Linked DNA regions of Homo sapiens: regions 2 and 3 are each linked to region 1. The links come from fine-mapping of genetic effects on gene expression. A gene starts in region 1. Each other region holds a variant in brackets. All regions are shown on one strand. Distances are from middle to middle. Region 1 holds the start of NECAB1 (N-terminal EF-hand calcium binding protein 1). Region 2 overlaps PIP4P2 (phosphatidylinositol-4,5-bisphosphate 4-phosphatase 2). Region 3 overlaps LRRC69 (leucine rich repeat containing 69).

Evidence for each region. PIP is the estimated chance that this variant, and not a neighbour inherited with it, causes the effect.
Region 2: its variant is the best candidate, but not a certain one, in a credible set for the expression of NECAB1 in thyroid (GTEx, PIP 0.53).
Region 3: its variant is the best candidate, but not a certain one, in a credible set for the expression of NECAB1 in unexposed skin (GTEx, PIP 0.84).

Annotation. Positions count from the first base shown.
Region 1 is chr8:90,786,121-90,796,922 of GRCh38, reverse strand. It overlaps NECAB1 (N-terminal EF-hand calcium binding protein 1), which reads right to left and starts at 5,148. Exons shown (of 13, transcript NM_022351.5): 1 at 4,938-5,148. The coding sequence starts at 5,036. It overlaps LOC105375633 (a long non-coding RNA gene), which reads left to right and starts at 4,755. Exons shown (of 4, transcript XR_928389.4): 1 at 4,755-5,485.
Region 2 is chr8:91,004,073-91,014,874 of GRCh38, reverse strand. It overlaps PIP4P2 (phosphatidylinositol-4,5-bisphosphate 4-phosphatase 2), which reads left to right. Exons shown (of 7, transcript NM_018710.3): 5 at 6,080-6,132. Among named protein-coding and RNA genes, the nearest start is that of C8orf88, 24 kb to the right of the region's middle. The variant G/A (reference allele first, on the strand shown) is at 6,067.
Region 3 is chr8:91,109,160-91,119,961 of GRCh38, reverse strand. The region is part of intron 1 of LRRC69 (leucine rich repeat containing 69); the gene reads right to left. Among named protein-coding and RNA genes, the nearest start is that of LRRC69, 12 kb to the right of the region's middle. RefSeq lists a silencer at 194-394. The variant T/C (reference allele first, on the strand shown) is at 4,276.

The DNA of each region.
Region 1 (10,802 bases):
TTCATAAAGAACAATCTCAAGTAGCATTTAGCCTCTGAAAGATGAAATAAAAACAGCAGCTTTTGTTATTAAGACAGTTCTTATAATTAAATATGAACAGAACTGTCTCTGCTGCAAATTTTGCCTCTGATCCCACAGACTAATAAAAAATGTACTCCGGATGAGAATCAAGTTCATTACGTTATGGTACCAGAATAATCTGTGTCAGCCGATCTTAAGGTTGCTACCACTGGATAGATGGTAAATAAATTTAAATATTATGGTCAGGCTTAAAATTTGAAGACAGGCAATACTGTGTTTTCGCTACAATTCAAAGATTATCAAATAGATTCCTTTATTTCAAAAATATTCTTTGATGGCCTCAACTAAAATTCCTTATTCATCACTTTAAGTTATTGAAGGCAGGTGTTAAAATGTAAATGTTATCTTTGAAACATTAAAAGATGGACACAATCATAATTTACTGAACTAATATTTCTAAGTGCCTCCTACCATGAATCAGGTTAAGATTTGATAATGAGGTGAAATAGTCCCTTGGTAGATTCCTGAGAAACTAGAATATAAGACAGGGACTCAGGACTAATCCAGAACATGGAGTCCCACCACACAGGGTCGGCAGGAGTCTCTCCCATTAGAATGCCTGGTGTTGCCCAGGTGTCGCAATCATTAGACTGCCTGGGGTCAGATGGGAGTCTCTCCCATTACCAGGGTGGGTGGGCCCAGACTTCCAGCAGGTAGTTTTACTACCAGGCCACTGGTTGCCCTGAAACTGGATAAGGGGAAGCAGGCACTGAAAGATGGATGGAGAGAAGGAATCAGTGCACATATTTTCATCTTCTCAATTTTGCCTAGGGTAGGCCCAGTGTGGGAAAACAATTTTTAATGTATGATAACAGTAAGACTAAGTGTATTTTTAAATACTTTTTTAAAAATTTTTTAAGTTCCGGGGTACATGTACAGGATGTGCAGGGTTGTTACATAGGTAAACGTGTGCTATGGTGGTTTGCTGCACCTATCAATCCATCACCTAGGTATTAAGCCCAGCATGCATTAAATTTTTTTTTCCTAATTTCTGCTGTTTCCTATAACTACAAGAGTGACATTTGCCTTGCCAATGAGGGTAGACAATGATGGGGTTAACTGCCATCCTCTGAACTGGACAATCTCACTCAAATGAGCAAGTGTGTGTGTGTGTGTGTGTGTGTGTGTGTGTGAGAGAGATGAGGTGAGATGGGAGGTGTGTGGCTATAACAGAGTTCAGTCACAGAACCATTGCATCTGGAAGACTCATTCGGCTTCGACATTCCTCTGTGCATCTCACACATCATACAAATGAGCATATATGGGGCTTCAGAATTAAGTGTCCTTGTGAAAAGAAACTATTTCTTGTTTTCACCAAGTTCCTGACCATCTATGCTCTGTATCTTGCATTCAGAGTGTACATGAGTGTGCATGCTTAGACGAAGGAAGGAAGGGAAGACAAGCAGTAAAGTCATTCATCCCCCTCACAACTTTCCAGCCTCTTTCCCTCTTTAGCAGTGAAGTGGGGAACAGTCACTTCCCTTCCAGTTAAAAATCAAAGGAAAACTGATGGGAAAGGAAAGTGGCATTGGGTGGATGAAGTTGCTACTAATTTCGTTTGGGAATTTCTCTTGCTTTTGGGGATGAGTTGAAGGTTTGTTTTTCTCCCTTTTCACAGTAGCGGAGTTGATTAATGTAATGACTCAAAAGAGGAGACACATGCTACATAGACTAGTATTCCAAACTAGAGTTCCTCTTCTGTTAACTGGATTGCAGCAACTGGGGAAATGATAGTCCATTGGTGTAAAAGGAAAAGCAATAGTAATCCCTGTGGTCCTATGTGTTGCCAGGACCCAGTTGAGTCCCTCTCCTGTGGCTGGCAGGCATGCCATATGCAAATGCTTGCTCCAGCCTCAATGCACTGGCATACCTTGGCACCAGTGCTAGGTTTTCTAAGCCTCCCATCAGTATTCAAGAGTATTTATGATGAACCGATACTTAATTCTGTCATATTCTAGCAAGACAATTCTATAAATTAGATTCATGAAGAAATAGTCCCTGCATCAGTTTGTGGATTTAGCTACTGTTACTGTTATTTAATACACTCAGTGTGCAGCACTGAAATAACCATAATACTTCAAATTTATGCAATACTTTTTGCTTTGTTTCCATTTTCCCTTATTTCATACTCACAACAGCCTAAGGAAGTATCATAGTGATTACTATTGCTGATTTGGAGAGGATACTGAAGGAAAAGCCAACAGTTGTGGCAAATCTATCTCTGATTTTCTTGTTAAAATCTGTCTCTAGTTTCCAACCAGCTGGTCATGTATCATGTCATTAATAGTGTTCTCAGTAGCAGTTTACATCATTTCTTAAATGATTGATTATTCCAGTGACATTGCAATAAAAAGCACTGCAAATCAAAGTTTTCCTCAAATTTGGAAATTGTCTGTTTGATACAGAAGACACACAGAAAATTACCTGTTCCAGTTTGGAACAGGTAATATCTATCACCTATGTATTATAATATGAAGATAATTTTAAAAGTAATCTTTCTTGCTAGTGCCATAGAATATATTAAATCAAATAAATAAAGTGATGCATGTATATTTTATATTTTATTTTGCTAAAAGTGGTATGATCCAGAAATGAATAATTCACAAATCCCTAAGTAACAAATCATTTTTCATATCACATATTTCACCAGTGTTAGATTTTTCACAAAATAACTCAAAGAAAAGTGTAAACAAAATCTTTTCCATTTGACACAAAATCCAATGGCAGGTTTTTTTTGTAGACTCTAGCATTTTACCGACAAACAAGCATGTCAACACCTCTCATAGGGAATCAGTTTCCTATTTTTATTTTTAAATCTCTGAAATATAAAAGGCAAGACCACCCTATTCACAGACTACAAGTTCCTTTAGTACAGGGACCTGATGCTATTTGTTTACAGACTTGGAAACAATCATGCATACATAATAAAAAATGAAATTTTAATTTTCTCTTCGAAAACATTGCAGTTGAACACTTAAGCAATGGCTGGTGTATGAGTCAGGAGGATGACTTTCCATTTGTGTAGTTTTAATCCATTCATCTCCACACTATCACCGGGGTTTGTTAAGTGCTTTTTAAAAAGCACAGGGAAGCACTTGATCTCAATGGGGGACAGAGTGAAGATCAGGTCAGAATGAATGGAGGCCCCACTTGTCCCCTTTGAATCAACTCCATGGCCCCTTAATTGTCAGCCTCATAACTGACATGATTTCCAGGGGCCCTGACTTTTCAGGCATGTTGTGGTGCCCTTCTCTTTTCTCAGCTTACCTCCTCAAGTGCTTTATGGCCCTGAACAGCAAAACTTGAATAAGATCAGCCCGTTAAGCCATGAGCACCAATAATACCATCTGACTGACCCAAGCCAGGCAGAGATAAATGCTCATGAAGGATAAGGTACTTAACCACCTGATTGGGTGGCTGAATAGGAATGACCACACCTGAGATTTGGTGGGAAGGAGATGACCAGCCCAGAATGCCTGGATCACCAATTGGAGCCACCAGGTGATAAAGGGTGAAGGCTGCCAGTACACACAGTTGAACCTCACTTCTATCATTTGCCTTACAACAGTTTGAATTATTGATAGGAGTTTCTTTCCCTAGAATTAAAAAGAATTCTAGCCAATCCATTCAAAATAAACTTGGGAGAGCGCCTCACATCCTCCTATCCTCTTTATCTCTGCCTCACCATTATGATACTAATTGATTTCCTCATATTTTCATCTCTCCACAAACAAATGTATCTGGCTTCTGGCCCATCTCCCACTCATTTTGACTTTAATAAGAAAAGATAACTCAGAGAAGGGTAAAGGACAGAGCACGTAGCACTCCTCCATGTCCTTTGACATTTTCTATCATGCCTAAACAAGAAGCAGACAGAATTGTCCCCACTGAGATAGACACGACCTCCGGCAACAGCATGAATGTGACAACTGAGGGGCTGGGAGAGCCTGGAGCCCGGCAAGCAGCTGAGAGAAACCCCAAAGCAGAGAGAAGAGATAGGCAACAGACGGAAAAATAGAGAAAACAGAAACAGCAGGCAGGAGAGGAAAACAAAATTGAGAAATAAATAAGAAATAAAAGTGCTGTAAAGATAGAAACCACACCATACGGGAAAAAGAAACAGCACAGAAGGAAAAGAAAGGATGTAATCAGATCAGAGTAATGAAGGCAGGCAGTCGATACCGAAGTGAGAAATTGGACCAAAGGGAAAATAGTCAAAAGCTAGAATTCATGGAGGTGACAGTAGTAATTAGAACTTGGAGAGAAGGAGAATATCAGGGAAGAAAAAGGGAAAATAGAAGAGGTGGCAGTGACAAAAAGAATCATTATGAAAATGATATTTCCCACCGCTGTAAAAAGAAAAACAAATATGCTCAAAGTAATTGTTTTCCGAGGGGGTCTGGGGGAGGATAACGAGGGCATCTCAATCGCTGCTGCTTCCCTGGCTGGGTTGCTTGAGAGCATCCACGAGTGTGAAGGCTGCGAATAGGGCGCGTTAGAGAGATGAGTTGGGACACTGTCCCCACCTCACCCCCCACACCTTGTGCCTCTTTAAAATGTCCTATGCACTCAAATGTTGTCTGTTGTATTTGCAATAGTGTCTCTACGAAACCCAGCCTGTTGGAAAATCTAACTTTTGCAGTTTTCTTAAGGGTGTTAAGCCACAAGCTGCAGGTCTGGGACAGCCCTAGCTGCAAGTTAAGGGACAGTCGTTCCTCCTGCATTTGCATCGGTAGTTCTCGCCTGTGTTCTGGGGACAAAGCATTGGCTGGTCAGCACCTGAGCCGAACCCCTTCCTTTCGGGGAAAAGAAAGGTGCTGGGAAGCAACCGCCCAGCTCCCACCATCTGTACTTACGTCGAGGAAGATCGACATGCCCTTGGACAGGTGCAGAGCAGAGCTGAGCTCCTCCGAGGAGTTGTTGGAGGACGGCGATGTCTCCTGGGAATCTTCCATCCTCGGGAGCCCTGACGGCCTCAGGCGGAGCGGGGCTAGGCGGACGCACCGGCTCTGGCAAGGGCGCGGCCGCAGCTGCTGCTTCGCCGCCGCCGGGCTCTGGATCCGGGAGGGTGTTCGCTCCCGCGCGCGCCTCCCTCCGCGCTCTCCGCGCTCTCCGCGCTCGGTGTCCCCCCCTCCCTCCTCCGGCCTCTGCGCTCCCACGCGCTCCAACTCTCGCCTCCTCCTTCCCGTAGTTGACGGCGTCTGGATCCATGTCATCCCCGCACGTAGCAACGCGCGGAGGGGAGCGGGCTCTGCCCCCGGCACGGCCATCGGCCACGGCTGGAGATAGCCTGGGGACCCCTACCAGCCCCACGACGGCCCCAAGTGCAGGGATGGAGGAGGGCGTCCGGACAGAGAGAAGGGACGAATGGCAGGGCGTTTGTCCTGAGCAGCCAAAGCGCAAGGTAAGGACGCCCCCAGCCTCACCTGAGTGGATGCCATAAATAGGGAGGAACTCAGAGAGGTTCTACCTACTCTGCTTTTGGTCCCAGTGGCCTGTCTGCCCGACCTTCCCCAAAGGCGGGGGCAGGGTTCACGAATACCAGCAATCGAGGAGCAGCTGGTTTGGTGTAGGGATTAAGCCATTCGGTGTTATCTTGCGCTCGAAGGACTTAACCTGTAAGCCTCACTTTTCCTCATCAGTAAAATGGTTACACCGGTCTCACCCCAGAGGGTTCTGAGGCTTACCTATGGCAGTGCTGCTGACAAAGGCGGTGCTATGAACTCTGCCTAGAGTAGGCTTCGAAACGTTTGCTATGGGGCAAGGATTGTTAGGTAATGTTCAAATATGAAGTTTCCCAAAGTCACAAGACGAAGTCCTTATCTGTGTTTAAGCATTTAAACCAGGGTAATTATTCAATATTTGACGGCTTCTGCGAAGGCTGTAAAAATAGGAAACTGACCACACCTTTCATCAGGAGAGAGATCCAGTTTATTGGGCATCTAAAATGTGTATGTGTTGGTTACAAACTTGAGCTATCTGGGAGCGAGATAAGGCAAAAAAGAGGGAACCTTGTCTAAACAAGACTCTGCCTCTACCAGTGAGAACGGGTGAGGAGGATCCAGATCTCCATTTTGTGGCCTTTGGAGAAAAGTAAACATATTCTTCCTATAAGACAGGCCCACACACAACCAAAATGCTGATCAACATGTGAGTGTCTTAAAGGCATGTAAAACATGCTAGGGGTTTCTCAGGAGAGACAGGTTACACTCTGGCTGGGGGGACCAATAAAAGCTTGATGAAAGAAGCGGTATATGAAATGGACCTTAAAAATCAGTGGATACTCCATGCTTGATAGAAATAGAAGGAAAACACTTCCAGGCAGAAGGAACAGCGTAAGCAAAGCATGGCACCAGGAAAGCACGTGGAAGCTGGAAGTAGTCCACTGGGGATTCCTATAAACATACAGAATCCCAGATCCTACCTGGGCTTTCCAAATCCCAATACTAAAGTACTGTCTAGTCCAGAAATCCAAGTCCCCCTCACCCTAATGATTCATACACAGTTGCTATGTAGTAGGCTCAGGACTAGGGTGTGGCAAGTGGGGCCACTTGAGCACAGAATGTAAGGAGGCACTTGCTCTCAATCTCTATCCTGTGCTTGCATGATCCTGAGAATGATTTTCTTAAATTTTGCACCCTAGGTGTCTTGTTCACTTCACCCAAGTCCCACTGCTCCTTTGTAGATGGGTGCTTACAAAAAAAAAAAATGAATCCAGTTGTTCTCAACGCTGCCTGTACATTGGAATCACCTGGGGTGTGTGGTAACTTTAAAATGTGCCCACAAATTCATTGACATTCTTCCTATAGAGAAGTGGGTCCCCTCCCCTTAAATCTGAAAGATTGTGACTGCTACAATGAATGAAATGGAACAGAAGTGTTGCTATGTGCTTTCCGAGGGTAGGGGCATAAAAGCCTTTGCAATTCCACTTTTTACAGTGGATTTGCTCCTGGATTCTTGAACTTCCGTATAGGAAGTTTTTCTACCTTAAGCCACCATGCTTTGAGGAAGCCCAAGGTATATGGAAAGGCAAGTGTAGACACCTGGCTTACAGGTATAGCTAAGCAGAGCCTTTGCATTATCCCAGCCTCAGCAGCAGAAATGTCAATGAGGAAGCCTGCAAATGACTCCAGCTCCCAGCTCTTGCAGACATCCCTAGCCATGTGAGTTGTCCCAGCCAAAACCCCAGGCATCATGGAGTAAAGGCACACTACCAGTGCTGTGCTGTGTCAGAACAGTTGGACCACAGAATTGGGAACATAATAAAATGTATACCGTTTCATACAAATAAGTGTTGAGGTGGTTGGATTTGTAACAATAGATAACCAAAATAAGGAGCTAACCCTCCCTGCACAAACACACACACACACAAACCAAACTGATGCCTGTGCTTCATCCTCAAATTCACTTTCAATTAGTATGCGGTGGGCCCAGTGGATTAATGTTTGTTTGTTTGAAGATTTCCATGTGATTCTGATGTGCAGCAAGGATTAAGAATCACCAAACTTAACTGTGCTGTACATACAGTACAGGAAAAAAGTAGAATAAAATCTCAGAAAATAGGCAGAGGCTATAGGATGAAAATCTGTGAAGCCCGGGGATAGAACTCTGGACTTAATTAGGTAGAGAGTTAGAGACATTAAACTTAATCAGGGGTGAGATATTGATTGGAGCTGTGCTTTAGGAATATTCATCTGACATCTTTATGTGCATTTTCCTAATTAACTGCAAATTTCCTTACCTGAACAGTGAGAATAGACCCTTCTCTTTGACAACTGTTCATCAAAATAGATACAAAATCATTTAAAAAAAAAACATACTGGTCAACCCATCAGATAGACACAGGTCATTCAAATCACTGAAGGAGAAAAACCACGAGAAGGAGGGGGGCTGTCAACCATTAACATCAAGTTACTGAATTTATCAAAATAACATGTTGTTTATTCCTGCCATTGGATGAAGAATGGAATAGATTTTTCTGCAACAAGTGCAGTTTAAGTCTGACCCCTCTAACCCAAGTTGTGCGGGTCCCTCAGCCCTCAAATTCAACCACACAAGTGATAATATTTTTATGCCAATCCCATGGTAACAAGAATAGTTAATAAAGGAGACTTTCTCTGATTATAAATGAAGAACAGGAGAATAATCAGCAGTCATCATTCAAAACCAGGAAGCTGTTTGTAACACTTTAGTTACAAACACTTCAGTTACAGGAAGCTGTTTGTAACACTTTACTGACAATGAATGACATTTTCTGTACCTGTGGATTTGCTTATTTCCTCTAATGGTCTATCAAGGAGAAACATAAATTATTAAGCAATCAACCGATCATTATTTATTTTTATGATTCCTATGTGAACACAGGAATACATTCTGCTGTAACTGACTTCTCTTTTTAATGGAAATGTAATGTTCACAGAGGCTGTAGTAGAAAAAATGGCAATTAGATTCACATTCACAGACAAATTCAATAGGCTCTACGAAGTGGCAACCAAACATATTTTTATAGTTTTCTTTTTATCTAGATGGCATGCATTTTTGAAAGCAGTTTTCACACATTTTCGTGAAACACACATGCCTCACTGCTGTGCATAGTATCAGTCACAAACAGCAGACAACCGACTTGAGGGAGGAAATGCAACTTCTTTGTAGCAAGGGCCTAAAAAAAATAGAAATGTAATTCCAGATTCCAGCTCTCAGGCTTCCTATGATAAGACTTTGACGTGAAGATATTTCTAGCATTTCAGGAGATGATAGCTGTGTGGGAATATATTGTATTTCAATCCATCTCTGCCTTGTAGAAGAACTATTATCTAAACCATTTCAGACAGCTGGGAATCTATCTTATTTATATCTTAAATTCTAGGGAAGGTTATCCTTCCCTTTTGAGTGATGACTCAGAATCCTTTCAGTCAGGTTAGTGGACATTTTTGTTGCCTTGGCAGCTTAGGATCCAAATCCCCTTCCGCTTTAAGTGCCTATCCCCATGGTGTGTTTCCTGACTGGGGGCAGAACTCGCCCCTTCTGAAGGAAAGAAAGGAGATCCTCTCCCTCTTCTCTGGTAGCTGGAGCACAGGCTGAGAGCTAGGCTCAGCTGATAGGACACTTCACTTGTGTGTTTAAACCTGAATCAAGGGATGTGCGGGGAAGTTTATTAATGGCAGTAGACACTCACAGTGTAGTGTTGAGTGTGGCCACAGTGCCAGGGGAGCCCTGAGGATGAATTAATCAAATGGATAATGGCACTCTGTGATTTCAGCAGCCCTGTCCTCCAATCTTGATCTCGAGGCTTTCTGCCGACTTCCTGAGAGACCTAGTATCCTTCCAAAACTTTCTTTTCTGTTTTACCTTAGTCAAAGTTAGTTTTTTATGTTTGGATTCTGACAGATAAATTCAATTTAAATTTCTAGTGTTAAAGAAGGCCATAGTTAAGTCATTGGAAATAGCTGTTTAAAACATTTAATTATCTTCAGACATTTATTGATTGCTTGCTTCAATCCAGGCAACTGACAGGCAAGCTGGGGAAATGATAAAAAGGACTGGCCTTGCCTTTGCAGAACATACACAACTTAAGGAAACACTATTTTAATAGATAATTTTAATGCAGTGAGACAAGAGTAACACCAGATGTTTGTGGTGAAGGCTGAGGCAGGACAGAGAAAGAGACTTCTCCCCATAAGTGCCTATTCTGTGTGATCGTTTATCTAACTGAAGAGGGCAAAATTAGGACTCAGGAGTAGTAAGTGCCATGGGCCAAAATTATTAACTAATAATGGTGATCTTCCTATGAACTATTTTACCCTGAGGATACATTTTTGTGTTATGCCACTGTGTGCTACTAGCTTACTCAACTTGGAGCTCTTCCATTTTGAAGCAAAAAAAGAAAAGAAATCCTCAGTGCCTAGTATCCTCCCTTAACCCTATGTGTTGTTACAATTAGTGTTCCCTGTCTTTATCTTTATCACGGGCAAAATTTCTCATCTGTAAAAGCAAGAATGAGGTATTGTGTGCAAAGAGCTTAGTAAACAGTAGGCACAAAGCAGGTATTCAACAGTTAGTCACTGTTTTCCCCACCAGCACCACTGCTTTGCAACCATGTTGTTAAGAACAGAGAGACTTCACATAAGTACCCGGTAGGGTATGGTGTCTGGAACATGCGGGTCTGGTGAGCAGTGGTGGTCACTGTGACCAAGACATTGCTGTCTATTGTCCTGGATGCTACAGATTTTCCCCTCCTTCTTGAAACTCTTGCTTTTTCTTTCTGATCATGTTCCTCCTACTCTCCTTAGTCTTCATGGAGTCTCCTAATTCTTCTAGCCTTCTAGATGTTACATTTTCTAAATTGTACCCTTGCTTCATCTGCTCCCTTCCCATTCTTGTTCTCTTTCTTTCCTCCATACACTGATATTACCCAAGCCCATGATTTTTCATGTGTAGGCTGATGACTATGTAGATTCATATTTCAGTCTGACTGGTACACGTCTTCTTATTAATGTTTCTTAGGCATTTTGAATTGAGCATGTCTAAAAAGGAATTCATCATTTTTTCCTAATTATTTTATGCTCCATCACTTGTTGAATAACATCAACCTTCACCAATTCATCCAAAAGAGAAACCCCAAAATAAACTTGGACTCCTTCCCTCACTGTCGTTCACCCTACCTCTATCCCATCCTCACCTCTCTCTAATCAGTTGCAAGGGTTATCTTTGGAATCACTCCT
Region 2 (10,802 bases), 220 kb before region 1:
GTTTTGATATACGTCTATACTGTGAAATGATTACCACAATCAAGTTAATTAACATTTTGATTACCTCATATAGTTATCGTGTGTGTGTGTGTGTGTGTGTGTGTGTGTGTGTGTGTCTTTGTGGTAAGAATACTAAAGATCTACCTTCTTAATAAATTTCAAGTATATAATACAATATTGGTAACTATAGTCACTATACTGTACATTAGATCTTCAGAAATTATTCAGCCTGCCTAACTGAGACTTTGTACTCTTTGACTAAAATCTCCCCTTTCCTCACCCACCTCAATGCCTGGCAACCACCATTCTACTCTCTGCTTCTATGAATTAAACTATTTTACATTCCACATACAGGCGTGATCGTGCAGTGTTTGTCTTCCTGTGTCAGGCTTATTTCACTTAACATAATATCTTCCAGGTTAATACATGTTGTTACAAATGGCAAAATTCCCTTCTTTTTAAGGCTAAATAATATTTCATTGTATGCATATACCACAATTTCTTTATCCGTTCATCTGTCGATGGAGATTTGGGTTGTTTCCATATCTTGGTTTTTATGAATAATGCTGCAATGAGCTTGGGATTGTGATACTCCTGCTTTATCCTTACCCCAGCCTCCACCTTTAAAAGTATAGGGTCTATTCTGGGTCTTTCAGTGTGAAGCAGCCTGCCATTATTGGCTTATCTCTCTGTAGGTAGTTAAGTTTCAACATCCCTTTCGCTAAGTGAGTTGCAAAGTCCATCTGCTTTCCATTGTCCAAAAATTTGAAGTCATAGTCCCTCTTTTTTTATCCTTATGGTATTATACATTTCAAAATTCAATTACTATTATTTTAGTCAGGTTTGGAAAAAAATGGAAATGCATGCATTTATTCAATTTACTGTATTTAACCAGAATTGCTAGGATTTTTCTGATTTAGTAGGATATGTCTCCTTTGTTACATTTATATTTTATTGATTAAATCAGTGACTAAGTACGTAAATTAGAAAATATACTTGGTGGGGATAGGTAACAACTTTCTTTTTAAAAAGTCACTATAGGCTGGGCATGGTGGCTCATGCCCTGATATTCCAGTGCTTTGAGAGACCAACATGGGAGGCTCACTTGAGGCCAGGAGTTTGAGACTAGCCTGGGCAACATAGAGACCTCACCTCTACAAAAACATTTAAAAATTAGCCAGGGGTAGTGGCATGCACCTATAGTCCTAGCTACTCAGGAGATTGAGGTGGGAGGATTACCTGAGCCCAGGAGTTGGAGGTTGCAGCGAGCTATGTTCATACCACTGCATTCCAGCCTGGGTGATAGAATGAGACCCTATCTTTAAAATAAATAAAAATCAGTATATACTGATTTAATATAAACTAACGTACTCTATAGTTACCAATAGATATTAAATGAATTAACTAAATTAAATATATAAAGCATATTTGTTATTTTCTTTTTCATATGTGAACAAACTTTTGACAGTAACACAATTTTAAAATCTTCAATATAGATTTGTTTCAACCTACTTCTGGAGATCTCCCTTCTACAGCTACCTTGCATTCTTTCTTGTTACGTTTTATCTTCCAAATATTTGCCATGGATAATCCTTGTAGCCACATTACAAAAGGAATGATTTTATTTTTTCAATTATATATATTGAGTGTGTGTACCAGGCACTGAGCTAGGTGCTAGGGAAACAGTGGTGAACAGGAAGCACAGTCTCTGCTTTCATGAAATTTTCTAACCTAATAGGAGAGGAATGGATAGCAAAGAGACAAGCCTGAAAAAGCACAAGGCTAGAATTTTGGCTTTTATTTTTCAGCAAAGTGATGATGATAGTCAAGAATAGCATAAAGAATTTGAGAGAGAATTGACTGTACTAATAGGGTAGAAAAGGGAATGAGGAGAAAAGAACAATCAAAAAGACAGTTGTTATAAAGGTTTATATTTAATTTTTAGAATCATCTGGCAATGAATTCTAGAGAATGATCTAAATTGAGAGTTTAGGTAGATATGTATGTGCCATGGTTTCTATTATATTAAAAAGTAATTTGTACATTTAGATATTTTTCCCCAAGAAGAAAATTACTAAAGTAATGTGCAAGCCAGAGACTTACTTCTAAAGCTGGCTCTTTCAGAGACTAACTTCTAAAGCTGGCTCTTCCTTACTTAACATTCAGTGCAGGCAAGTGAATCATATTATCATATTAGCAGAGTAACTATTATTTAAAACTTTAATTCTTTAGCAAGAAAAGATGTTTTGGATTAAAATACAGTATTTAAAGATGATTTCAAAATTTTATAGGAAGTTTTTGTTGATTAGGGGAACACTGTATACACCTATAGGAGAGGTATTGGTTACTTTTGAGAGTTTTGGATTAATGAGAGATGCTCAGTATTATGAAGAATACACTGACTACAAAGTTCTTACAGCCTTATCCTTATTATTATGCTGATCTTGACTAATCTTATATTCTTCATAATATGTTATTTGCCCTTCACACTGTTAATTATTAGGTTAATTCATTTACTCATTTCCTACTTTGTTTTAGACTTAGCTTGCAAGGCTAAAAGCAATTGAGATAAGTTACAAAGATACACTAAGTTCAATATGATTGAAAATCAAATGTGAAAAAAAATCAGGAAAAATAATAATTAGGGCAGAAAAAAACAACCTGAAGTCATGCATAATATGAGTATGCTAATATTTAGTCTAATACAGTTGATAAAATCAGGCTGAATCTTAGCTCTGAGTTTTCTAGAGTCAAAGAAAAGAAAATATGACCTGTGACAAAATACTCAAGATATTTTATTGGAAAGATCACATAGGAAATGCTTTTCCTGAAATAATGAGCTCTCTCTCCTGAGAGAGAATTCTCTCAAGGATTAAGATAAAAGAACTATTATATGTGACAAGGCTTTTATTATTTAAAAAATTTATACTTAAAAATAATTTAATTTTGATATTTTACCCCCAGAAAAAAACACAATTGCTAAAGTAATATGCAAGCTAGAGACTAGCTTCTCCATATTCTCACAGCATCCTTCTGTTTATAATAACATTGTTTAATATACCAGTGCTATAATGGTAAGGTTAAATTTTCTAGGAATTCACAATATTTACACTATTCATACCACAGCCTAGCTGGGACCATGGATAAATGTAGAAAAGCCAGATTTGCGTTTTCCAAAGTGTATTCAATGGCACATTTATTTTATAGGTTAATAACAGGTGTTTGTGAGTAAAGAGTTCCATGTTCGTTGGGAATTGCTAGGATTAAAAAATTAAACAGAATTTAAAATAGGATATTCTTTAGCAGTTTTAGCATATACCATTGTATATATTTAAGAGGGAGTTTTTATGTTGTATGTCCAAACATTTTTTACCCTCCAAACCATTTTGAGATCATCTAGCCTGAGTGGTGATTTGAAGGGCATTGTTTGAAAAATAATTTCCCAGAAGAATGAATTGACTTATAAAGCCTTTAGCTAGTTCTCCATAAATGCAAAGAAGTTTCTTAACACAACTGAACAGCAGAGTTTACTATTACATTTCTGTAGGGCCCATGGTCTCTGTTGCTGGTAAAAGGCATATCCAGATACTTTGTTAATCAACATTGACTGAGGGTTGTTGTTCTTTAATAAAAGTGAACACAACTTAGTTCTAACTTTGCCCTGAAGTGGGCCAATTTAGTACCTTCAGGCAGGGCCAGATTTTTTTCATTTGTATCTAGGGACAAATGGGTGCCATAGCAGAGAGGGATAATAGTTTTAACTTGAACATATTTCAAAGTGTTACCAGTTGCCTATTGTATCTATCTGTCTATCTATCTATCTATCTATCTATCTATCTATCTATCTATCTATCTCAGTAAGATACTATAAAATTAAATTATTAGTTTTAAGCAATATAGCTTTTTTTTTTTTTTTTACAAATCTTCTAAGATTAGTTGCAAAATATATCTTGGGGAAACTCAATTTATCCATTACATGTTATAGAATAGTTAGAAATAAGTCAAATTTTAGAAGATCTCTACTAAAAATGATTGGGTTTTAGAGAAGTTGCTTTTAATCTTGCTGATATAATTAAGATTTTTTTCTTTTTGGTATAATGAGACTTCAAGGTCTGGCAATAAAATTTTAAGAATCCAGAGGCCAGATTTTAGATGAGAGAACAGTACTAAGTCAACTTCTTTTCCAAAGCATAGGTTTGGGATTCATTTGAATAAATTATAAGAAAATTATTCTAATAATAGATGCTTTTTGTTATTAGTTTGCTCCGTTTAAGTGAGTACTTGCAGATAACAACAAAACCAGATGTGGTAGGTTGCTGGCAATGTAATACATTAATTACAGAATAAAGTCCCTACTGTTTGTCAGTTATCATTGATTTTATCATGCATAATTTGTGCTAAAATGAAGAACACTATAAAATGATAACATTGGACTAAACAATCTCCTTAGGCATCATCTAAAATACTGAAATTCCTATGTCAGTCTGTTAGCCTTAAGTCTTGGATTTTGAGTTACTCTTGACTCAAAGGTTTCATAATTACCTTCTCAAACCAGTTTGCTTCTTTTAACTATGAAAAACTTAAATTTTTTATTTATAAATAACATTTGAAATGACATTACAAGTTCAGTAACTATCCTAAGCCTGTAACAGAAACATAAAAAAGCACTTAATAATAGTTCTATATTCTTCCACTGCTTAATGTTCTATACCAATTTCTGTAGAAATCTATATTAATATCTGTTTAGCACATTAACTCAAGAATTTTTACTTTAAGAGCAGTTTTAAAATAAATTAACTTGTTGCAAATTGATATTATAAGTAATTCTCTCATAATTAATGAGAGAAATATTCACTCTAGCTTGAAAAATAAGTGCCCTTGGTTTGACATTTGCAGATGTTTAAAAATAATCATTTTGTAAAGAGAGTGAACATTCATGTAAAGTTTTATTTCTCTTTTATTTATCTTGGGACTATATGTTCCTGTTGTGACTAAGCGAGATCATAACAAGGTTAACTAAATTTCATGAGATTTGAAATAAAAATGAAGAGAAAGGAGTTTAGGAAACCCAAATTTATATTTTCTTTTCTTAACTCTAATCATAAAAGAAAAAAGTATGCATCAGATATTTTCTAAAAGGTATCTTCTATTGTGTGGAAAACGTTTGAATATCCATAAGTTATTGAAACCCCCGTATCTAGAATTTGAGCCTTCTGAAAAGAAAAATTGTTGGCCTAGATTTCCAAATGAAACAATTTTAATAAAAATATGTTGTTTTGATGATAAACTGCCAAAGTACTTAAAGAAATTTTCCCAAAACTATCAAGGAAATATACCCTTTATAAGGAAGTATATAGAAAAGCAAACAAGATAGAAGAAGATTGTTAGAAAGTCATTTAACAAAATATATTTCATGGGATAAAGATTTACTTTAAATTTATATTGCATATTCCTTCAAAGACTATCTACAACCAGTAAGTCATTTCAAGTATCTGAATAACATTCATGTGAGGAAGGTAGCACATTTATTACTTAGATTTACAGGGAAGAAAATTGTACTAAGCAGTGTGTTTTTGTTATATTGTATAAGCAATGACAGAACAGGAAACAGTTCCCGACTTTTTAGTTTATGTACTTGGTGACTTTCTCACATAAGTAGAATAAATAGTTTAATTTTAGTAATGAATCTAAATATTCAAGTATTTAAAAGGCCAGCCCTCAAGACTTAAAAGAAAAATAACTTTGATGGTATATGAAATATGATTGTATTCGTTGGAAGTGAACTGAGACTTACTGAACAAGATGACCCCAATTATGGTATTACATTCAGTATTCATGTAAAGCAAACCTAGATTGCGTCAGAGCATTGGAAAAGTCATGGGAACTATTTCAGAGGAGGATCTCATATTGTATTTTAAGAGAGGGAGAGAAGTATTGGAGGGAAAAACTCATGTAACCGTGAGAAGGTGATTGCTTCTGTTGTGATCCCTGATGACATTTAAAGTAAAAGAAATGTCTTATCAGATTGGATAGTTTTCAGTTGTTTTCTTTTCAATTCCTCTCTTT[G/A]TTTATTTTACAGTGGATGGAACTGAGGTTCAACACTCTGGCAAAATGCCCACACTGCAAAAAAATGTAAGTTCCCTACCATTGGAAATATTATTGAGAAATACTTGAGACAAATTTGAAGAGTTCAGAATTTTCACTTAAGTAGATTTTGATTTTAAAACATGCTGTGGAGTGAATCCATGCCAATGTATTTATGCTTTTTAAGACTAAAAAGATATCCTAAAACAAATATATCCCATTTTGAAATTAAAATGATTAGGCTTGATTATCATCATCTAAAGGGAAATCAATTTCTATTATAAGAAAGTGAAATTGCTAAAAATTATCAGTAACCTGGTTAGGATATTATAATCTGTTACAAATAATCTAAAATTTACATTTATAAAATGGGCTGTAATCTAGGAGAAAACTCAAATTGTTCTGGACTTCATAATTAGGTGATTGTTGGCCTTTTTCATCTCCTGCCTAATAAGATTATTACTGATAGCAGCATTTATATAATTATTTGTTTATCTTAATTATTTAGCCTATTTCTCTCTATTCCTAAATGATGCACCTAATGAAAATAATGACAATATAAAATGAAAAATAATAGAAGATATTTTGATTAAAGACATTTTATAGCATCTGTGTTGGGGGTCCCAAGACTACACCAGGGTTCCTTGGTTTTCTACAGGGACTCATAGAAATTAATATATAGTTGTACTCACAGGTATGATTTATTATAGCAAAAGTATGCAAAGCAGAATCAGCAAAAGGAAAAGGCAGATGGAGCAAAGTCTGGAGGAAACTAGGGACAAGATTCCAAGGGGCCCCTCCCAGTGAAGTACCCCAGCAGTGAATTATTACCATGCATGTACCATGTTGTCTACCAGGAGGCTCATTAGAGACTTAGTACCCAAGGTTTCTACTGGAGCTGGTTACACAGGCACATCCTACCTAGCACACACCAAAATTCCAAATTCCTGTTTGAATGGAATTTATGTTTAGCATAAACCATACTGTTTACACAAACAATTTATACATAATAAGCCACTCTTACCAGTTAGGGAATGATGGGAATTCTCCCCAAATCTAAATTTCTAGATGCCAGCTAAGGGCCAACCTTACAAGCAGGGCTTTCTAAGGATAGCAGTCTCAGGCCTACTGTGTTAACTCTTTTCTGCACTGCATCTATTTTGATAATAAAATTATAATTTAAAAAATTATTGTTATCCTCTTATGTATGTGAATTATAACTGAAGCAAAGTAAATTAAACTGGAATGCTTAGACAATCCAATTTTTATTATTGAAAATAAGAGGTTTGAAATAATATTCATATTTTAATTTGTGTGATCCTTAGTATGATATAAATACCTTATCTACATTGAGAGTTGAGAAATCCCAAGAATGGTTTATAGGAGAAAGTAATTAAAAAGTATTTGGAAGTAGAATATGTGTAGCAAAATATCTCCATCTCTGCTAGATCTGATTTCAACTAAATATAGCTCTGTAAGAATAACTTTACAGCATATCTTAGCTTATAAAAAATAGTTTCTTTTTTATTTGTGAAATTAATCATTCTGATTCCTTACTGAATCCAATAGAAGTCTGTACATGGAGAAGCAAAGTGGATAAACCCTTAATACGTGCACAAAATAATATATACGTACTTGAGGAACACACCTATACTCCCCCCTCCAAAGTATGTGAATATGCATATGGATGATACATATTTCTGGGTATTATGTGTATTTTCACGAAAATGTACAAAATTAAATTGCAAATATATTCACCAAGAACATTAAAATGGAAATAAAGATCTTATAGAAAAGAAAAGGCAGAGACTTCTTTTTTTTTGAGACAGAGTCTCACTCTGTTGCCCAGGCTGGAATGCACTGGCACGATCTCAGCTTACTGCAACCTCCACCTCCGGGGTTCAAGCAATTCTCCTGCCTCAGCCTCCCAAGTAGCTGGGACTATAGGCACACGCCACCACGCCTGGCTAATTTTTGTATTTTTAGTAGAGGCGGGGTTTCACCATTTTGGCCAGGCTGGTCTCGAACTCCTGACCTCGGGTGATTCACCCGTCTCAGCCTCCCAAAGTGCTGAGAATACAGGCATGAGCCACTGCACCTGGCCTGACAGAGACCTCTGTGGTTAGCAGACTGTGTGCTAAGCAGAGTGATAGTTGCTTTATATATACATATATACTAGCTGTAATCTTTACAGCAATCCTGTAATACAGGGATGATTTTTGTAATTTTACAAATCAGCAACTGTTAAGAGAGGTTAAGGATTTTGCTCAAGGGACTTGCTTGGTTAATTATTTTCGTACAATGGCAATATTTTTACTACTAATAAGGAAGTATTGAATGTCTGAATACTCCGTGATTTGTTAAAATATCACAAGACAGTGTATTAATATGAAGAAGAATTTGTATCAACTACTTAGGGAACAACTTACATAGAAATTCACATGGAATAAATCAGCTTAAACATTATTCTAAGAGGAAGGTTTGTAGAATCAGAGTCACATGCTAAACATGGGAGGACTCAGAGCATTCATTACTTATTTGAGTGCAAATACTGTGACCACATGAACACTCCTAGCTGGTATCTAGATTTATTTTCTTTTTGAATGTTTTCCTTCAGAGCAAAATGATGGGTCATCTGTTGGAGTAAGATTCTGAGACAGAATTTTTTTTCTTTAAACACAAATATCCTAAAATTAGTTTTAAGTTACAGAAGTTGGTAAATTTATTACTGTGAAACAAGTGTGTTATGTGCTTTTATCTCACAAAATGTATGGGGAAAGCTTCCCCTAGAGCTCCAAAGACTGAGGGGCATTTTCTCATATTGCTGTTTCTTACTCGAATGGTAGCTGGTACTATGGTAGCTAAAGGTGATGTTGTTCTTTTAATTAGGTGGCTTGTGGCCACTGCCAGACTGAAGGTGTACTTGTAGCATTCTGAAATACAGTTTGGACTATGTTTCCATGCAAATGTTATAATGGACCTATGACTAGTAGAGACATTGATTTAATCCATGACAATTATCATTGAATATCATTTCTTTTACATCACTGATGTACTTTTGTGAATCACCTCCTGCCATTTTAAACAATAGTGGGCTTATTCTCAAGTGTTATCCATTTATTTTGCCATCTAGTGTTATATTTTATAATTATTCATTAATTCAACAAACAATTCTGTGCTAAGTACTGATTGCTTGAAATAAAAGATATAATCTTGCCTTCAAGGAATTTAGTCTTGTGGGCATAGTGGGGAGAATAGTTAATTACTATAAAGTTTTAAGTGCTTTGAAAGAGGTATGACCAGAATGCTCTGCTTTGAAGAGTCCCTAATCCAGATTAGAGGGAAAGGGATCTTGAGTGAAGGTTTTCAGGAGGGAGTGATATATGAACTAAGTTATAAAAGATGAGTGAGAATTGTGTGAAAAAGAGGGTGCACTGTAGAAGGAGCTACCTGTGCAAAGGTACAAAGGAGTCAGAGTATAGATGTACTAGTAAGGAAATGGAATGGATAGGACTGAATGTGAAAGAATGAGAGAGAGAGAGATTGGGATCAAGAATGACCCTATTTCTGAGAGGCTGTAGAACCATTCACTGAGACAGGACATGCAGGATCTAGAAGAAATGTGTCTGGCAGAAGATGATAAATTCATTTTCAACATATTAGATATAGAATAGTAGGTTTGCTAGATTGGTTAATCATCATTCCATCTATCTGCTTTTCAAAGCAGCAATCTTGGATCAATATAGCCATGGCTTCTCCCTTCCTTCACCAAGATAACTGAGAGTTGAAAAAATTCTGTATTCAGTTCTTTACAAATGTATAGATTTGTAATTTATCTAAATTGATCTATATTCCTAAGTGTCCTTGATTGACTTCCCATTTCCCAAAACAGCTATCTCCAGATATCTACTATTCCTCCTAAACCCCCACCTCAGTACCCCCAACTCTCCAGGTCTCATCCAATGAATTGCCTCCTATCTCTGAAATAATTGAGGCTATCTGTGAATTCTCTCATTTTTGTATTTCATACTCGTAAACCTGTCTTTATCCATGCTCACTTCATTTCCTCTTCTCAGAGGGATGCATGTCTCTTCTTTCCAAGGCTTATACCTTCATTTGATTATTGCACCCCATTCTCTTTGGAATAAGGCACAATTAGCTATCCATCCCCAGTGGGCCACTGAATTTGCTCTAATGAAATTCACATCCCAATAATAAATTCCATATTTTGATTCTCATCCTGCTTGTTTTCTCTGTAGCATTTGATACTATTGATCATCCTGGGTGTGCTGATTAATTTTAGGTGTCAACTTGACTGGATTAAGGAATGTCTAAAGAAATGGTAAAGCATTACTTCTGGATATGTGTGAGAGGGTGTTTCTAGAGGAGACAGTGGACTGAATGGAGAAGATCTGCCCTCAATGTGAGTGGACACCATCCAATTCGCTGGGGGCCCAATAGAAAAAAAAAAAGCAGTGGAAAGGCAATTTTCACTCTTCTGGAACTTGGACACTCTTTTCCTGCCCTTGAACATCAGAACTCCAGGCCCTCTGACCTTTGGACTCTGGGACGTACACCAGTGGTCCCTCAGCTCCGCAGACCTTCCTCCTCAGACTGAGAATTACGCCATTGGCTTCCCTGATTCTGAGGCTTTTGGACTTAGACTGAGCCACACTGCCAACAGTCCAGGGACTCTTACAGATCCCCTGTTGCAAGAC
Region 3 (10,802 bases), 320 kb before region 1:
CCTTAAATATGGGGACACTCACAGAATCAAAATCCTTTAGAAGATGAGACAGGTACAAAGTACAAGTGGGTGCTGGCCTTAGATAAGTGAAAGGGCTCTTCATCAAGGGTAGTAGGAAGGAAGGTAGGAAAGGGTGAGTGAGGATCAGATAAGTAGATGAATTCGTGATGAAAAGATGAGAGAGTTCCTGAAGGATGATGTCTGTTTTCTCACGGAAATATGAAACAAAGTCATCTGCTGAGAGGAGGAGATTAGGAGGTTTGAGGAAAAGGAAAAAGTCACTTTGAAAGGCAATCTAGGGGAATGTAGTAGGGTGAACGACAACCACAGTTGATTATCTCATCCAAGTTAGCTCCCAAGATATTATAAAATGGATAGATGACCTAGGAAAAGACATTTTATCTGGATAACCACATGGTCCTTTGACTGGAAGAAGCTACCATGTGAAATTCTGAGCTCTGCAACCAAGAATGTAGCTTGGAGAAGAGGAAGAGAGTTCACATAAAAACCTCAACTTGTAAAGGATTTCAAAGTCAAAACTAAGATGAAGTGAGTGCGACTGGGAATATTCTTCATAGCATAGGATAACCAAAGGAAGATTCACTGATTGCCTTTAAATTCATAAATGTCTCTTAAAGACTAGGTAGTAGCATTTATACTCTGTCACCATGGCAAATACATCAGAGCTTCAGTGTAGATTACTTAAATTATACAGAAAGGTCCAGAAACACTGTAGCAAGGATAGAGTTACCTTTGAGAAATACCTCAAGCCCCAACCTAGATGTTTCATTAATTCAATTATGTTTAAGATATGTCTATGATGGTACTATTTCTGAATGCTAGAGGAAGAGTGAACAAGACACACAAGATCCCTCTCTACAATGCTTCTATGTTGGGAAGTGAGTCAGACAACAAATAAGTAAACAAATGAATAGTGTGTTAGTAGTTAGTCTTAAATATGAAAAAAAGACAACAAGATAATGCAATGGAAAGTAACTCAGGACTAGATTGAGTCATTAGAGAAGTACTCTCTGAGAAGATGACACTTGATGTAAGATATTTGGAATGCTTTGACAACATTGTTTCAAATGGTGTTTTACTAACAAAGAACTGCAGAAATAGCAGATATACAGAAAGAATGTAGGCAGTGTTTCATTAGTAACATTCTCTACGGTTATGTGTAGTTCCTGAAGGAAGGCTTTAGTCATATGACAGACAACTATTTGATAAGCTTTAAAGCTTGCATCTCTTCAGTAATTAAATGTAGAATGAAGTTCTATTGGTATTCTCTCTCCCTTGGAAATTGATATGGTTATAGATGGAAAGACACCATTGCTACTGATTGCTATAGATTGAAAGACACCATTGCTACTCATAGACCCATGAGCCACGGAATTATAGCAACTTACAATTAGAAGAATTTTTTTTTCCTTTTGAGACAGTCTCACTCTGTCACCCAGGCTGGCGTGCATTGGCATGATCTCGGCTCACTGCAACCTCTGCCTCCTGGGTTGAAGTGATTCTCATTCAGCTTCCCAAGTAGTAGGTATGTGCCACCACGCCTGGCTTTTTTTTTTTTTTTTTTTTTTTTTTTTTTTTTTTTTTTTTTTGCATTTTTAGTAGAGATGGGATTTTTGCCATGTTGGCCAGGCTGGTCTCGAACTCCTGGTTTCAAGTGATCCGCCTGCCTCAGCCTCCCAAAGTGCTGGGATTACAGGCATGAGCCACCGCACCCGGCCTAGAAGGAAATTTTACAAGTCACCTAGACCAACATACAGAATGCAGGTGGGCAATTATATACCTTCCCCATGAGCACACCCAGTAATGGGTAGCACTTTTATCTTGTTAGGAAGATCTAGCTATCTATATTTAATTTTTTAGTATTTAGGCTCTCTGAAATTTCTACCCAATTCTTCTCACAGCAATCATAATAAATATTTGCACTCCTTCTCTCTCACATAATCTTTCAAATTTTTGAAGATTGCTATCATATTCCCTCTAAATTTTTTCCATTTTCCCTTAACTATTTCCCTCAGGACATAATTTCCAGACCCCTGACCATACTGACCACTCTCTAATTTTTGTGAGCACCCCTCTCTGAAAAGATGGAGCCTATGGTGAGACAGGAAATCAGCTCTCATAGCACATATGTTAGTGGGACCACGGGTCTCCCTCTGGCGGATGACAACACTTCTATTATGCAGCCTAACATGGCATGTACTCTTTCAGCAACAAGGCACATTGTTGGTGCATAATTAGTTTTGTCTGTGGCCAATAAAAACCCCTAAGCTAACTGTCAAGCAGATATCCCACATCCTGGACTTGTGCAATTGAATTCATTTCTTAACCTAAATGTAGGAATTTACAGTTATCCCTGTAAAAAAAAAAAAAAAAAAAAAAAAGTGGATCTTGTTAGTTTCGGCTTCTAAGATAACTCCAGTGGATCACTCTAAATTCAAAGTATAAAACTGGACAATGCCCCCTGGACAAACTAGATCTGCTTCTCCCACTTCTCATAAACCTATGGCGGCCAAACATTGGAGCTACCTAGAACATCTTTCTCTCCCTCCACCTAAATTCAATCTGCCACCAAGTTTTAGTCTTAAAAATCCTTTTAGATGTACCTTTTTCAGTTCTATCTCATTGCAATGAACCTAGTACTCATTACTGCCTGCCTGTAGCATTACATAGCAAAAGATGTAAAGAATGGATGTATTGTGACTTAAATTCCCTTTATTCAATCCTACTAGATTGTATCTAAACAGCTGCCCAAAAGATGAACCTATAATTTCTCTACCCAGTATATCCTAAATGTTTCCAACCTCCCTGTAGATAGTCTTTTCTATGTCTTTGTATACTTGCTCCAAATACTGTCTGTCTATGCTCTTACTAAATTTTATCTGATTTGTTTGATTGTATTGACCCACTCATACCTGAAAGTTATAGCCTATCTGTGGCCTGCCTTAAAATAGGCATGTGCACTTTCTCTTACATCTTGGATATGAGGCAAGCATCTCAATGTCCATTGATGCCTTTGGATTATAGAATCTAGGTTCAATGTATAGTGATATTTTTAATAAGTAAGAGAGAAGACAAGAAATTTAAGGAGAAAACATACAGATTATTAATGACAATACTGACCAATACTTAAATTAAATTTAAATTAAGTGCCAAATATATGAAACACTGTGCCAAGCTGAATTTTGTCTAATGTGGACCTCGCAATAACCCTGATCTTACAGAAAAGGGATCTGAAGTCCAGGCTATGATTTATGGTGAAATGACCTAGGTTCATTCTACGGCCTATATTCCTAACTCCTACCCTCCACTGTCTTCAGTAATACACTGCGCATCTTTAAAAGGAATTTACTATTGCTCAGAATGATCATACATATGCACATGATACAAATATATATATATATGTATACAGACACATATGCTCACACACATACACATGCTCACAAAATGAAATGGAATACAATACATGAAATTCTCATTTTAAATATCCTTGTCCTATCATGTGCACATTCTTGAGTCTGTATTGTGCAGTAGGCAAAGCACAGGCTGTTTGCTATGCAATGTACTGAATATGTGATCTTGGGCAAGTCACTCAAATTCCTAAGCCTCTATTTCTTTATAAAAATGGGGATACTAGCATTTACTTCTTAGGGTTGTCTTAAGGATTAGAGACAGTTTAATAAAGTGCCAGGCAAATAGCAGATATTATTAAATGGTAATCTTTTAGGCCCAGGAAAATACTGTGGGGTAAAATGTTAGCCATACCTGGTGCTAGAAATGCAGTAAACACCTGATACACACACACATACACACATACATACATATTGACACTTTACTAGTTTTCAAATTTAAAACCTGCTTATTTTCTTAATTTCTAACTCATTTTTTCAAACATTTCTAAATTCACAAGCACTCTTTTATTAGGCATAGGTTATAAACCATGATTAAATTACACATATATATTCATTACCTGGCTCACGGTGAAGAGACATGTATGTTAGGCTTACCTGCAGGAGTGATACCTGTAAATATGAGTGGGATTGGCAGGATCTCCATGTGCAGGGTCAACCACAGGCAAGGAACCTGAAGCAGCCTTGCTGGAAGTGCCAAGGAACAACTCCAGGGTCAGCTTTGTTTCACCCTCAGAACTCACTAACCATAGTTAGGAGCCACAGTCACCAACAGCAATTCTATTTTCCTCTCCTACTTGACTGAATTTAGAAAATCGCTTTGATTTACAAATTGCAAAAAGGGAGA[T/C]ATCTGATAGAAACTAAGAGATCTTCCCAGATGTTTGGGCAAAAATTTAAGAAACATTTAGACTGGAAAAGTTTAAAGAAATATTCCTGCATACTTTAGTACATAGAGAACAATGCATCCCATTTGCTGAATTAAGCCTAAACTCTTAGCTCAGAAACTGGTATGACTAATAGACACAGTATTTTAAAAAATAGTATTTCTTTCCACAGAACCTTTAAATACACAATCCTGCTGTGACAAAAATCCACCAGTGCTGGGGACTGGCTGGACTGTCACTACTGACTATGCATGTATGAGCTACCAGTTAGCCACAGTTCCTTCCTAGTCCCTTTTTCTCATATGTTACCTGCCTGGAGGCATGTGTTTTCAACCTCTGAATAAAATAGATGGCCTGCAAAAGAAAATCTCATCCTATTATTTAACAGCTTTCTCCACCCATTTATCTCAAACTGTTTCTTGTAACTTCTTCTCTGTGTGCGTATGTATGATCAGAACACTTCAGATCTACCCCTTGAGCAAATTTCAAGTATACTATACAATATTAACTATAGTCACATCATTGTGCATTAGCTCTCCAAAACTTATTTATCTTACATAACTGAAACTTTGTGCCCTTTGACCTACATCTCCCCTTATCTCCCTCTCCCTAGACCCTTGTAGCCACCATTCTACTCTCTGATTCTGAGTCTGACATTTTTATATTCCATGTATAAATGAAATCATGTAGTATTTGTCTTTCTGCATCTGGTTTATTTCACTTAGTATAATGTCTGCCAGGCTCATCCATGTTGCTGCAAATGATAGAATTTTCTTTTCTAAATCTAAGTAATATTCCAATGCATATACAGTCATGTGTCACTTTACTATGGGGACACATTCTAAGAAATGCATCGTTAGGCAATTTTGTCATTGTGTGAACATCATAGTACTTACACTAACCTAGATGGTATAAGCCTACTATGCACCTGCTATAAGCCTACTATGCTATGTGGTATAGTCTATTGCTCTTAGGCTAAAAACCTATGCAATACAGCATGTTACTGTACTGAATACTAAAGGCAATTGTAGCATAATGGTAAGTATTTGTGTATCAAAAAGTATCTAAACATAGAAAAGGTACAGTAAGAATACCGTATAATCTTATGGGACCACTGTCATATATGTGGTTCACTGTTAACTGAAATGCTGTTAGGCATCACATGACATATGTGCATACATACATATATATATACACACACACACATACACAAACATTTTCTTTATTCATTTGTCCATTGATGGACATTTTGGTTGTTCCCATATCTTGGCTATTGTGAATAACGCTGCAATGAACATGTGAGTGCGGATACCTCTTCAACATACTGATTTCATTTGCTTTGGATATATACCCAGAGTAGGATTGCTGGATCATACTACTATTAATTTTTTGAGGAATCTTCATACTCTTTCCATAATGACTGTACCAACTTACATTCCTACCAACAATGTACGAACATTTCCTTTTCTCCACATCCTTGTGAATACTTACTTTTTGTCTTTCTGATAACAGCCATTCTAACATGTGTAAAATAATACTTCACTTTTGTTTTGCTTTGTGTTTCATTGATGATTAGTGAAGTTGAGTACCTTTTCATATACCTATTGGCTATTTACATGTCTTCTTTTGAAAAATGGCTATTCAGGTCCTTTACCTTTTTTTTTTTTTTTTTTTTTTGAGACAAGTCTCGCAATGTTGTGGAGGTTGGTCTTGAACTCCTGGTCTCAAATGATCCTCCTATTGGCCCCTTTACCCATTTTTAAATCAGGTTATTTGTTTGTTTGTTTCTTGCTATTGAGTTGCACGAGTTCCTTATATATTTTGTATTTTAACCACATCATATATATGCTTTGCAAATATTTTCTCCCATTCTGTAGAATGCCTTTTTATTCTGATGATTGTTTCCTTTGCTGTGCAGGTTTTTAGTTTTAAATTATCCATTTGTCCATTTTTGCTATTGTTGCTTTTGTTTTTGGCACCATATCCAAAAAATCATTGTCCAGACCAATGTCAAGAAGTTTTTCCCTATGTTTCCTTTTAGTAGTTTCACAGTTTCAAGTGTTACATTAAAGTCTTTAATCCATTTTAAGTTGATTTTTGTATACCATATGAGATAAGGGTCCAATTTAATTATTTTCCATATGGATATCTAATTTTCCCAACATTTATTGAAGACACTATCCTTTCCCCAATGTGTGCTCTTCGCACCCTTTCAAACATTAGTTGATCATACATACGTGGATTTATTTCTGGGCTCTCTATTCTGTCCCATTGGTCTATGTGTCTGTTTTTATGCCTAAGACACACTGTTTTGATTACTGTGGCTTTGTAATATATTTTGAAATCAGGAGGTATAATGCCTCTAGCTTTCATGTCTTTGCTCAATATTGTTTTGGCTATTCAGGTTGCTTTGTAGTTCCATATGCATTTTAAAATTGTTTTTTCTATTTTTGTGAAGAATACCATTAGGATTTTGATAGGAATTGCATTGAATATGTAGATCACTTCCAGTAATATGGACATTTTAATAATATTAATTCTTCCTATCTATGAAGGGATGTCTTTCCATTTACATGTATCTTTTTCAACTTCCTTTATTAATGTCTTATAATTTTTCATGTATAAATCTTTGACCTGTTTGGTTGTTTGTGAGTACTTTATTATTTTTATTGCTATTGTAAATGGATTGATTTTTTAATTCCCTTTTCAGATACTTTATTCCTTGTATATAGAAATATGATTGATTTTTAGTATGTTGATTTTATAACCTGCAACTTGACTGAATTCATTTATTAGTTCTAACGGTTTTTTATTGAGTCTTTAGACTTTTCTATGTACATGATCATGTCATTTGCAAACAGAGATAACATTATTTATTTTCTGATTTGGTTGCCTTTCTTTTTCCTTATTTAATTGTTGACTAGGACTTCCAGTACTATGTTGAAAAGTAGAGAAAGTAAGTATTCTTTCCTTGTACCAGATATTACAGAAAAAGCTTGCAGCTTTTCCCCACTGATGATGATGTTAGTTGTGGGAGTCTCATATATAGCCTATATTGTGTTAAGGTAAATTGCTTCTATACCTATTTTGTTGAGAGCTTTAATCATGAATGGATGCTGAACTTTGTCAAATGCTTTCTCTGCATCTATTGTGATGATCTGGGTTTTTTTCTTTCGTTTTGTTAATGTGTTATATCACATTGATTGATTTGCATATATTGGGGTCCTTGGCAGTAAAAGGTGCTGCAGTGCTGCTGATCTCTTTTCCTTCTATCAGGGGTAGTTGTGGCCAAGGGGATGCCCCTTGGTGGTAGGTCCAGCACATGGGCATGTTTGGGCCACAGAGATGCCACTGTCAGAAGTGCAAGTGCATGCAGAGCAGCCGCAGAGCTGGGTCTGGAGCACAGGTACATGCAGAGTGATCACGGCTTTGAGGTCCCAGGTCACAGCCACTTCTGAATGACATTTTCATGGAATGAGAAAAATGGCCACAGAAGGACTGTTAATTTTGCTGGATAAAAATTCTTTATTGTTTCTGCAGTAATGATGTGTTTCAGGATTCTGTTTTCATTAAATACTAACAATATCTTGGTTCTCCAATAATTATAACAGATTTTCGTGCTTAATGCTTCCCCTTGAGATTTACCATCTTCCCCATGAAGGCATCCTCCTTTTGCATTTGCATAGCACGGTGTACTTTCTATTATCAATTATTATTATTTATATTATAATGACTTGTGTATATATATTTTTTATTTTTTTCACTTTTAAGTTCAGGGGTACATACATGTTCAGGTTTGTTACATAGGTAAACTTGTGTCATGGGGGTTTGTTGCACAGACTATTTCGTCACCCAGGTACCAAACCTAGTAGCCATTAGGTATTTTTCCTGCTCCTCTCTCTCCTCCCAGCTTCCACTCTCTGATAGGCCCCAGTGTGTGTTATTCCCCTCTATGTGTCCATGCGTTCTTATCATTTAGCTGCCACTTATAAGTGACAACATGTGGTATTTGGTTTTCCATTCCTGCATTAGTTTGCTAAGAATAATGGCCTTCAGCTCCATCCATGTCCCTGGAAAGGACATAATCTCATTTTTATTTTTCTATTTATTTTTTTTGAGATGGAGTCTCACTTTGTCACCCAGGCTGGAGTGCAGTGGCACGATCTCAGCTCACTACAACCTCCACCCTCTGAGTTCAAGCGATTCTCCCGCCTCAGCCTCCCGAGTAGCTGGGATTACATGCGCCTGCCACTGTGCCCAACTAATTTTTTGTATTTTTAATAGAGACGGGGTTTCACCATCTTGGCCAGGCTGGTCTTGAACTTCTGACCTCGTGATCCACCCACCTTGGACTCCCAAAGTGCTGGGATTACAGGCATGAGCCACTGTGCCTGGCCCATAATCTCATTTTTTATGACTGCATAGTATTCCATGGTATATATGTACCACATTTTCTTTATCCAGCATATCACTGATGGGCATTTATGTTGATTCTATGATTCACATGTATATTTTACCTCTACTATTAAATAGGAAACTTTCCAATGACAGGGTCTGTGTGTGAATCATCTAGCATTCAAAGAACAATATCTGGAATATAATAGTTGCTCAATAAATATTAGTTGAATGATGCCTGCTTAGATCATCTCTGTAAAGACTCAAACTATGGAATAGTCATTATGGCTCCACATCAGTTTTTATTTTCAAAATCAAGTATCTTTTGAGCTTAATCTGTTCTAATTTGCCCAGCTTTATTTATTTCCTTCTAATGAGCTGCATGCTTTCTTTATTCTAGCCTGCTCATTCTCACTAGCCCCTATATTCAGTTCAATGTAGTGCATATCATATGTAGGCCTAGAACTTGGACCAGACAGCCTCTCTTAATATTTAATTATTCCATGCTTGTAGCTATTAATTATCACTAGAAAACTCTATGCTACTTATTATATATTTTAATTACTTGGTTTTGACTAACTTAGATAAACTCCCCCACTCCCTGGCCTTTTATTTGAGACAGAGTTTTGCTCTTATTACCCAGGCTGGTGTGCAATGGCATGATCTCGGCTCACTGCAACCTCCACCTCCCAGGTTCAAGTGATTCTCTTGCCTCAGCCTCCCAAGTAGCTGGGATTACAGTTATGCATCACCACACCCAGCTAATTTTGTATTTTTAGTAGAGATGGGGTTTCACCATGTTGGTAAGGCTGGTCTCAAACTTCTGACCTCAGGTGATCCCCACCACCTCAGCCTCCCAAAGTGCTTGGATTACAGGCGTGAGCCACTGCACCTGGCCAGATAAAACCTTTTTAAGTATTAAAAAAATTCTCAAATGTCCATCTTTATCTGGAAGACTGTCTTCCTAAACTAAATCATGGTTATACCATTTTGGAATAAACTATTTGATTATTTGCCTATAAGATGTATAAATATGTTTGAACTACTTAACTTCCTTAAGAAGAGTGAATCTTTAACTTCCTTAAGAAGAGTAAATATTCACATTTATTATAATCAAATAGTATATAATATACATGTCAGGTTCTGTAAACTATTTTGTAAAGGTAATCGAATCAAATTAATGAGGGAATAATAACGATTTTACATTTTTGAATTAGCATATGTATGGCCAACGTATGGAAGGAGGTTCAATTTATGGTTCAATCTGCTAATTCTTATCAATGCCTTTTTTTAAAGAAATCTGTGGCATCCTTAAAACCGCTGTTTAATACAACTGCCAAACTGCTTCTGAATCCAGCTCTTCCTGAAGGAATTTATTTATATGAATAACTGCCAATTTCAAAGCTACTATTTAATTTTGCAGTAACTTCCTAACAAAGTCATATTTCTCAAAACAATTATAATTTCACTAGAAATTGAGGGGAAGTTTCCATGGCCAGCATGTTATCTCATCTCTAGATATTTCATGGAGATCCCACAACCTCTTACTGCTGGCCCCTTAAATCCCAAAGTTAAGCTCAATGTCAAGAAATATAAGAAGGATTCTCTACTGGCATTAACATAAAAAGATTATCAAGCCATTGCCTTTTAATATGCCATCAAAAGCTTCATAAGGAAAGAATAAGAAGGAAGGACAAGAGTTTCAAATTATTAGAATTCAATTAAAATGTAAAATTTTAACATTCAATTAAAATGACATTCAATTAAAATGTAAAATCTTAAGTGTTTGGAAGTTTGAAGGTTCGGCTAAAATTTTCTATGTAAACAATATGGATAAGGCATCCTATATTAGGTAGATAACAGTGATGGCAACTTTAGGAGCTAAGAATGACGAGGCCCACTTTTCAGATGAGTCAAGGCAGGTCTACAGATAGAGTATATCAGTTTTTCCACATCACTAGTGAAGGAAAGAAGAGGGCTGTGTCTTTTCTAGACACCTGCCAGCAGAGAGAGAAGCTGCATTTCCAGCAGGGGTTCAAGAGACCTTAATATATGCCTTGGCATGAAAGCAGAGGCAAAGGAGACATGAACGGTT